Linked DNA regions of Homo sapiens. The protein of the gene in region 1 purifies or fractionates together with the protein of each later gene. This does not show direct contact. Each region holds a gene or a part of one and is shown on either strand. Other genes may lie near its edges.

Evidence for each region. Proteins that work in one complex are often made in the same cells at the same time.
Region 2: the proteins of MATN3 (region 1) and EDIL3 purify together in Homo sapiens (affinity purification with mass spectrometry; one large-scale study listed by BioGRID and IntAct). This does not show direct contact.

Annotation. Positions count from the first base shown.
Region 1 is NC_000002.12:20,009,869-20,013,796, reverse strand, and holds the start of MATN3 (matrilin-3 precursor), read left to right. Parts: upstream 1-1,128; 5' UTR 1,129-1,165; coding exon 1,166-1,388; intron 1,389-3,928. UniProt on the Homo sapiens protein: Major component of the extracellular matrix of cartilage and may play a role in the formation of extracellular filamentous networks.
Region 2 is NC_000005.10:84,382,081-84,386,337, forward strand, and holds the start of EDIL3 (EGF-like repeat and discoidin I-like domain-containing protein 3 isoform 1 precursor), read right to left. Parts: upstream 2,801-4,257; 5' UTR 2,295-2,800; coding exon 2,228-2,294; intron 459-2,227; exon of another isoform or gene 342-458; intron 1-341. UniProt on the Homo sapiens protein: Promotes adhesion of endothelial cells through interaction with the alpha-v/beta-3 integrin receptor. Inhibits formation of vascular-like structures. May be involved in regulation of vascular morphogenesis of remodeling in embryonic development.

The DNA.
Region 1 (3,928 bases):
TTTTAAGGCTGAACAGTATTCCATTGTACGTAGATACTGCATTTTGCTTTTCCATTCACACAAAGAGAGACACTTGGGTTGTTTCCGCCTCTTGGCTATTGTGTATAATGCTGCTACCAGCATGGGGTACAAATATGAGAAGTGAGGTTTAGGATCGTGTGAGGAGGATCACTTGTAGAGGGAAAATAGTGAAATAGGACGACCAGATAGGCTCTGTTGGAACTCGCGCCCATTGTTTTAAGACGCAGCTCAAATGTCACCTGGTTTTAGAAGTCTTCCTGGTCTCCGCAGGCAGTCAGTATCTCTTTCCTAAATCCACCACATTCCCGTAGACAGACACCACATTTATGCAAATCTCCTTCTCACAGACAGTGAGTTCCATGGGGGTCCCCTGGCAGCCTCCAGCCCTGTACCATGCTAACTCTTCCGGAGAGGAAATGGGGCCTCGGGAGAGCCTTTGAAGCCTGTGTTGGTACAGGCTGTCCTTCCAGCTAACGGGGCTCTCTGGGGAATGTATGTTTGACTTTCTATTCCCGGTAATATAAGTTCAAATGTTTGTGGATATTTGAAGCTCGGATGAAAGCGTTTCTATTCATGCCCCTAGAATCTGTGAGGCCTTTTCTTTCTTTTTTTTTTTTTAAACAAGAGCCCACAGCAAAACTTGGGTTACTTGGCTGAGGAAAGGAATGTAGAGCTAGGAGCAGGGTTTCATCTTCAGCCCCAGTCGGGCAAACCAGTGGCAGAAGGGAAAGCAGAGCCCAGGGGTCCCCATCCCGTACCTGGGGCGCAGGCCCCGCTGGGGTGGGAGGGAGAGTGGAGGGCCGGGCAGGCTGCAGCCGCGGATGGCTGCCCCCCCTGCCCCGGTGTTACTGGGAGGACGGAGGTTGCGACAGCAGCCGAGCCCACCCAGTTGCAGCCGGCTCGGGGCTTAGGGCAGGGGCGGGAGGTGACCACCGCGCCGCTGGCCGCCTCGCCCAGACATTCCGTTTCTGCCGCTGGAATGCGCGGACAAGGCTCCTTGTTGGCCTTGGGCGGGGTTCGCCGGGCCGGCCTGGCGCTCGAGGCCCCGGGGCGGGGCGGGGCCCGAGGCCGCGGGACCTTTAAATCCGAGCCTCGCGTGGGCTCCTGGCCCCCGACGGACACCACCAGGCCCACGGAGCCCACCATGCCGCGCCCGGCCCCCGCGCGCCGCCTCCCGGGACTCCTCCTGCTGCTCTGGCCGCTGCTGCTGCTGCCCTCCGCCGCCCCCGACCCCGTGGCCCGCCCGGGCTTCCGGAGGCTGGAGACCCGAGGTCCCGGGGGCAGCCCTGGACGCCGCCCCTCTCCTGCGGCTCCCGACGGCGCGCCCGCTTCCGGGACCAGCGAGCCTGGCCGCGCCCGCGGTGCAGGTACAGGCGGGCGGCGGGAGGGACGCGTGAGCATCGAACGAGGAGAAGCCCAGGGCATCCACCAAGCGCGCTTCATCCCGGCCTCAGGCCGACCGTGGTGCGGGGGAAAGAGGCCCCTCCCGGATGAATCCTGTGGGGGAAACTGAGGTCCAGAGAAGGGGAGGGAGATGCCCAATATCACTCATGTGTCCAGGCTAGAGATGTGGGTCTCCTGAAGCTCTCACTCCCCTGTGATTCGGCCAGGAGCACAGGGCAGCTGGGGAGCGCAGGGGCTGCTGCCCAGCGGCTGCTGCTAAGCTCCGTCCCAGTCCTGACCTCTCCATTCAGTGAGCAAACCCTTCCTGAGACTCTGCTGTTAGTTCTCTTGGAATCTCTCCATCTCCATCCAATATCAGGGCGTGATCTTTCCTCCCCTCCCACAGTCCTCAGGCTGCCTCAGACTGGAAGGTAAGGGATGCGGGTGTGAGACCAGGAGGAGATCCGAGGAGCCGTAGGATACCCCAGGATCAAGACACTCTGGGTCTTTGGCGAACAATTCTATTTCTCTTTTTGGTCAGCAATTGATTCCTGAAGCAGAGCAAAGCTCATAGTGCAGCGAAGCGGGCAGGTCGTCTGACACAGCCCCTGACAGCACATGAAGGGAAACTGAGGCATATCAAGTTGAAGGGACTCTGTGAATCAGTATCAGAGGCCACAATAAAATTCAGGGCTCCGAAATCCCAAGCAAGGTCTCTTTCCACTGCCCCAGCCTACCAACCTCTTAATATGGTTTACATAAGATTGTATCTTCATTTCCAAAAAGCGCAGCTTCAGTCTTGCTAAAAAGAGTCTGTGCCAGGCCATTTCTGGGTATGCAGTCTCATTTGGCCAGCCACGCTGCATGCCTCAGGCTGATTTCAATTGTCTATCCCCTTCTGCATCTTTCTGGATAAGCTGAGAAGGAGCTCAAGGGACTCTTTCCTGACTCAAATACTCAGTCCCCGTATTTGAAGTGGCAGATTTGAAATGGCAAAAGCATTGCTGCTAAGGCAGGAGGTACCGGGGTCCACAGGGCTAGATTCAGCTGGTGGCTGGTTGCTCCAGGCCGGGAATTGAGGGAAAGCCTTTCTTCTGGAAGTTAATCTTACTCTAGTCCTGACCTGCCTCCCTCTGGGATGGGACTGGAAGAGGAAGGAGAGATTCAGCACCAGGTGGCCATGTCCCCCTAAGCTTTACTGGTCTTTCATTACCTAGAGTCCGAACCTGATCATGAATGATAACCCATTAATAAATGCGAGATTCCACCCTGTTCCAAATTATCTCCTTTTAGCAACCAGAAATTGCTAAGCTTCGCTATGGATTTTTATTTCTAGCAGGACTGTAAGGACTCAGTGGTATTATGAGTATGGGAACATTTTAGGAGATTCAGATTCTTTCTTTGTTCTTGGGAATCAAATTGCTGCTATTTAGTAAATGGGAGTGAGATTCAAAAACAACTAATGATTGATGCGGAGTACCAGTCAGGAAGGAACCAGATGTTCACAGAATTTTCTGCCACCATGGTCAAGCCTCAGGTATTAGTTTTCTATGGCCACTGTAACAAATTACTGTGAATTTAGTGCCTTAAGACAACACACATTTATTACCTGAGAGTTCTGTGGGTCAGAAGTCTGACCCTGGTCTCACTGGGCTAAGATGAAGGTGTCGGCAGGGCTGTGTTCCTTTTGGGAGGCTCTAGGGGAGACTGCATTTCCCTTCCCTTTCCACCGCATGAAGGCTGCTGAGTTCCTTGGCTTATGGCCTTTTTCTTCCATTTTCAGAGCCAGCTAAAGCAGGTTGAGGCCTTCTCCCATTGAGTTACTCACATTTCTTTCATCTGCCTCCCTCTTCTACTTTATAATTACATTGACTCACTGAATAATCCAGGATAACCTCTTGTGTAGAGCTCTTTGACTTAATCACACCTGCAAAGTCTCTGCTCTTTGCCACGTAAAAGTAACATGTCTCTGGAATTAGGACGTGGACGTCTTTGGCGGGGGACATTATTCTGCATACCACACCCCGAATAGAGGATTCGGTGTGAATAACCAAGTGGAGAAGGAAAGAATCATGCACGTTTAGTTATAAGAACATAGCCATGATATTTATAAGGACACCATTTGGGTGCTGGTGAAAGCACTGTCAATTACAGAGTTCATATCTTCATGTTACCCCCACCTTTTCTTTTTCTAATTATACAAAAATACTTTGACCCATCTCCAGGAAAGATTTTCAACATAATTCTTCTTCCTAGCTCTAGATCTATGGGACTTTCCAGGAATGAAGTAAAATTCTGGAGGTTTTTTTTTTTTTTTTTTTTTTTAGTATTTGAAGAGATTTATTCTGAGACAAACATGAGTGACCATGGTCTGTGACACAGCCCTCAAGAGGTCCTGAGTACATGTGCTCAAGATGGTCAGGGTGCAGCTTGTTTTTATACAATTTAAGGAGGTATGAGACATCAATCAAATACATTTAAGAAATACATTGGTTTGGTCCTAAAAGGTGGGACAACTCAAAGC
Region 2 (4,257 bases), on another chromosome or scaffold:
GGTGAGGGAGAAAAAATTAGAGAGGTGCAAGTTTTAACAGAAAGGGCTAATGCAAAATGGTCTATTTATTTTTCCTCAAGCCTTTCCCCTGTCCTCACAAGCTAGCTGGGGGAAAAAGGGAGAAATCTCCTGAAGAATATGGAGCATCCAGCTTCCCGAGCATTGTCTAAGAGAACCAGGATGGAGAGTCCAGGCAACATCTCCATGGTTGGCTTGTCTGGCGGAGTAAGCTGTGCCCTCGGCGCGGGTATCTTCAGGAGACAGAGCTCCTGGCTGCAGCGAGCCGGGACTTGCCGCGCCCCGGGGCTCCCTCAATCAGACCCAGCCAGGCAAGCGCGGCCACATAGGCAAGCGCGGCCACATAGGCTAGACGCACTATCTTCTCCTCTACCCCGCGCCGCCCTCCACCTCGGAGCGGGGACGTACGGTGGTGGCGGTGACACAATGCGAGTGAGTGGGTGAGTGTGTTTTCGTGTTTGGGGTGGAAACGTAGGCGGGGAAGAGAAGGAGGAGAGGGGAGTGCCTGCAGTCCTTCCCCCTTCCCTTCCTGCTAAGAGATCAAAGTGCAGAGGAAATCCAGACGGGAAATGAGAGAAAGGAAAAACAGCAGCCGTGGAAGCACTCTCTTTTTTATATCGCTGGAGACTCGGCCGAGCAACTACTGGAACCATTACCATTTCTTAACCTTTAGTGGAGTGGCTGCCTTTGCCTATTAACTGGAAGGGCACTTTGTAAACGCAGGCGAGGCACACACCTACACACACGCCTACACGCTGGGGGAAAATAACCACATTCTGGGGGACGGAGGGAGGCCCAGGCAAGGCGCGGCCATGGATCTCTACTGCCAGAGCTGCGAGGGCATCTGGCCAGCAACACCCGGCTTCTTGGGCGAACAGTCGCCCAAGAGTCCACAATTTTCTTGTGACTCAAATAGATGGATAGGTGCATGGATGGATGGTGCAGAATATTCATACTCTGTCTAATCTCAAGTGGACTGGAGTCAACGCATTTTTAAATCCATCTACCTTTTTTAGAGGCACAGCATTTAAAACCCTGTAGTTCACTCAGCTTTCCACTTGAAGCTGCCTGCAGAGGATTCTATTACCCGCGGATCCCTCACAAGGGGCCGCCCGCATCTGTGAGCGCAGGAGTGGCACAGCTCCCCCAGGCACAGCTCCCACTCGCCTCCCCACACACCCTGCTGCCCCCGCTGCCCTTTTCCGGCGACTACTTCAGCCCCGGCCAGCGGTGAGACCCAGGTCAGCACAAGGGTTTGTATGGACAAGCTGCACCTCGCAGGGGACCTGGAAGTCGCCTAAACTACTCCAGCAGGACACTCGTCGAAGTCCTGCGTTTTCTTTTAAATGCTTTTTTCTTTTTAATTTAATTTGATTTTTATTTTTCTGTTTTTATTTTTTCGTGCAATTCACAGAAGGCATCACCCTACAAGCTCTCACAACTTTTCCGCTCCTGTGCGGGGACGCGAGGGGTGGCTTGCCCCGCACTATTCCCCATTACCAAGAGTTAACACTGGTACTCGGAGGGGGTGCGCAGCTAAGCTCCAGGCCCCTGGGGTCAGACTAGGAGAGGCGGGTTCCTGGGGTTTGCTGTAATCGATGCTGCTCCTCTGGGATGGGGAGGCAGGAGAAAGCTGAAGTGACCTGTGAGACTCCTCTCCACCTCACCCGCGGCCAAAACGCCCAGCGCCGGGTCTGGGTTTGCGAACGGCTCAGCCCAGGCCCTGCGCCAGAGCACCGCACCCGGGGGCGGACGGCCCTGCAGCTCCCCAGCCTCTTCCCGCATCAACTAGCTGACGCCCGGGCGCACTGGCTTCCCCCGCTCCCGCCCGCACGAAAGCCCTGCCCGACGTCTGCAGTCAGCATCGCCCGCACTGCCTAGGGAGGGTTTGCGCCGAGACCCAGTGGCCGAGTGAGCCACAGAGTCGCTGGTCCTGGGGACGCTGTCTTCTACCGCTCCCCACCGTCCTCCTCTTTCCTGTATCTCACCCCGGTACCCCGCACCCTTCTCCCCGCTCGGCCCCGCGCACTCTGCTCAGACTTTACAAGCACTTTCTCGGGGCACCCAGGACTCGACGCCTCCTCCGCGCCGCCAGCGGCGCTCGCCACCCTTGGCACGCCGGAGGGACCGCCTCCGGCCCCCTGCGCGGCGTTTCTCAGGGGACTCCCAGCCCATCCCTCACCCAGCTGTCCGGGTCCCGACGCCTTACCTTTGCCGAACTGGGGGACACCGAGGCTGAGCCCGACCAAGAGCCAGACGGCTACCGAGCGCTTCATGATCCCGTCTCCCGGACGTGACCCCGGCTGGTCAGGGGTCGTCGCGGAGGGCAGTGTAGCCGAGGTGGCAGCGCAGGGCAGCAGCAGACTCCGCCCCTACTAAAGAATTCAAGAAGACGTTCTCTTTCCTCAGCGCTTTGTTAAACAAATTCTTGGAGAGGGCGAGAGTGGTGACTAAAGAGAGGAGCCTTTCCTCCCCTTTTGCCTGCGCTCCGGCGCGCGGAGGTGGGTGAGCTCCGGGGAGCCGCCGGCGGGCTCAGCCCTCCGCTGCGGGTGGGTCCCGGCAGAGGCGCGGCGGGCGGGGCGCGGGCTCCCGCGGCCGCCCCGGGTCTGCTGCGCGGGCAGGCAGACCCACCGGCAGACAGGCGGACCGGGCGCTCGGCTGTCGCTGTTCTCCGCGCGGCGGCTGCGGGGCTTCTGACTTGGAGAACAATGAAGCGTGAGCTGGAGGGGAGCGAGCGGGCCGCCGGGAGCGCACTGTGTACAAACAGAGGCGGCGTGCGTGTGAGTCTGAGCCTGGCAGGCGCGCTCCCCACTCCCCCGGCGCCCGCCCGCCCTCCGCCCGCCCTGTTATTCACTCCCCGGGTCTCCCCCTCCTCTCTCTCTCTTTTGCTCTCTCTCTCTGTCTCTCTTTTGCTCTCTCTCTCCTTCCTCCCTCCTCCCCTCCTCTTTCAGCTCCTTCTGCTATAAGAGAAAAGGGAGACAACTGCAGCCACACCCTAGCACCTAGCACCTGCCACCACCTCTGAAGTTCCTGCATTGCCTGTACCTTCTCCGCACATGCTGGAGACTGTGGGGTTAAGAGCTGCACCCTTGCTGCCTGAGAGTCCCTTGGATTCCAGCACTGACTTTATAATTAACCACGTTAAGGATTCCCCTGAACTTCCTTTCTCAGTATAACCAGGAACAGAAGTTAAGAGATTTTGAAAAGTGACTCTTGGGGCACAAAACTGCATGAGAGACAGAACCCTGCAAAGTGAATTGCCCCGTATTTCTCAGGAACTGCAACGTAGTCAGCAACCAGACCCTAATCAGCTAAGACAGGGCTGCTCTGCTGCTCTGTCTACAATTTAGTTAGCTCCAGGGCTGGGGAGAGAGGGTTGTGGGCTCATCTGTTCACGGGGGCAAAAGGGTGGAAGTGAGTAGGAGACATGCATCTCGTTAAGCAGGACATCTGTTTCAGAGAAGAAGTGGGGCAAGTTTGGGAACTGTGCAAGAACATAAAGGCAAAGACAGACCCTTGAAGCATCACTAAGGTGGATCAAATTTTCTTTCTATCCGCCAAAATAAATGGACTGGTTTTTGCAGTGGAAGTGATTGAACCAAAAATACAGCTCATGGCTTACAATTGTGCTTTCTTCTCTGTTTTTCGGTTAGAATGATTGCTTATTGTACATGGATCCAATTCCAGCAGTTACAGGTACCAAAATGAAACAGGGCTTCTTTTTTCTTTTTTTTCTTTTTTTTTTCTTTTCCTTTTTTCTTTTCTTTTTTTTTTTTTTTTGTCTTCTAGAGAGGGAGGTAGGGAGAGAGACAAACACAGAGCTAGAGAAATTGAAAGAGAAACATTCTCGAAGGCAAAGAGTTGAAAGGTGAATCTACTAAGAAAAGAATAACAGAGTGCAATTAGCCATGGAACTACATCTCCATCTGCCTCCTTTAAAGGATGAGTCCTTTAAAGGTGAGATGAGTCCTTTAAACTTAAATTTCTACCTTCCTTTTCAAATTTTAAGTGAAATGAAGAATGCGAGGTGAATGGAACCGTAATGCTGAATACTGCTAGGGAGGGTTTAAGGTATTGTATAACTGACAAGCAAACAACGGAAAAAAGAAAGAAAGAAAGAAAAAAAAGAACACCTTTCAGAAAGGGTTTGTTCATATCTCACGATTGGTGGGAGGGTTAAAACACATTTTTTAAAAAATCACCTTGCTAAGAGAATGAGAGAGATTCATTTATTTACTG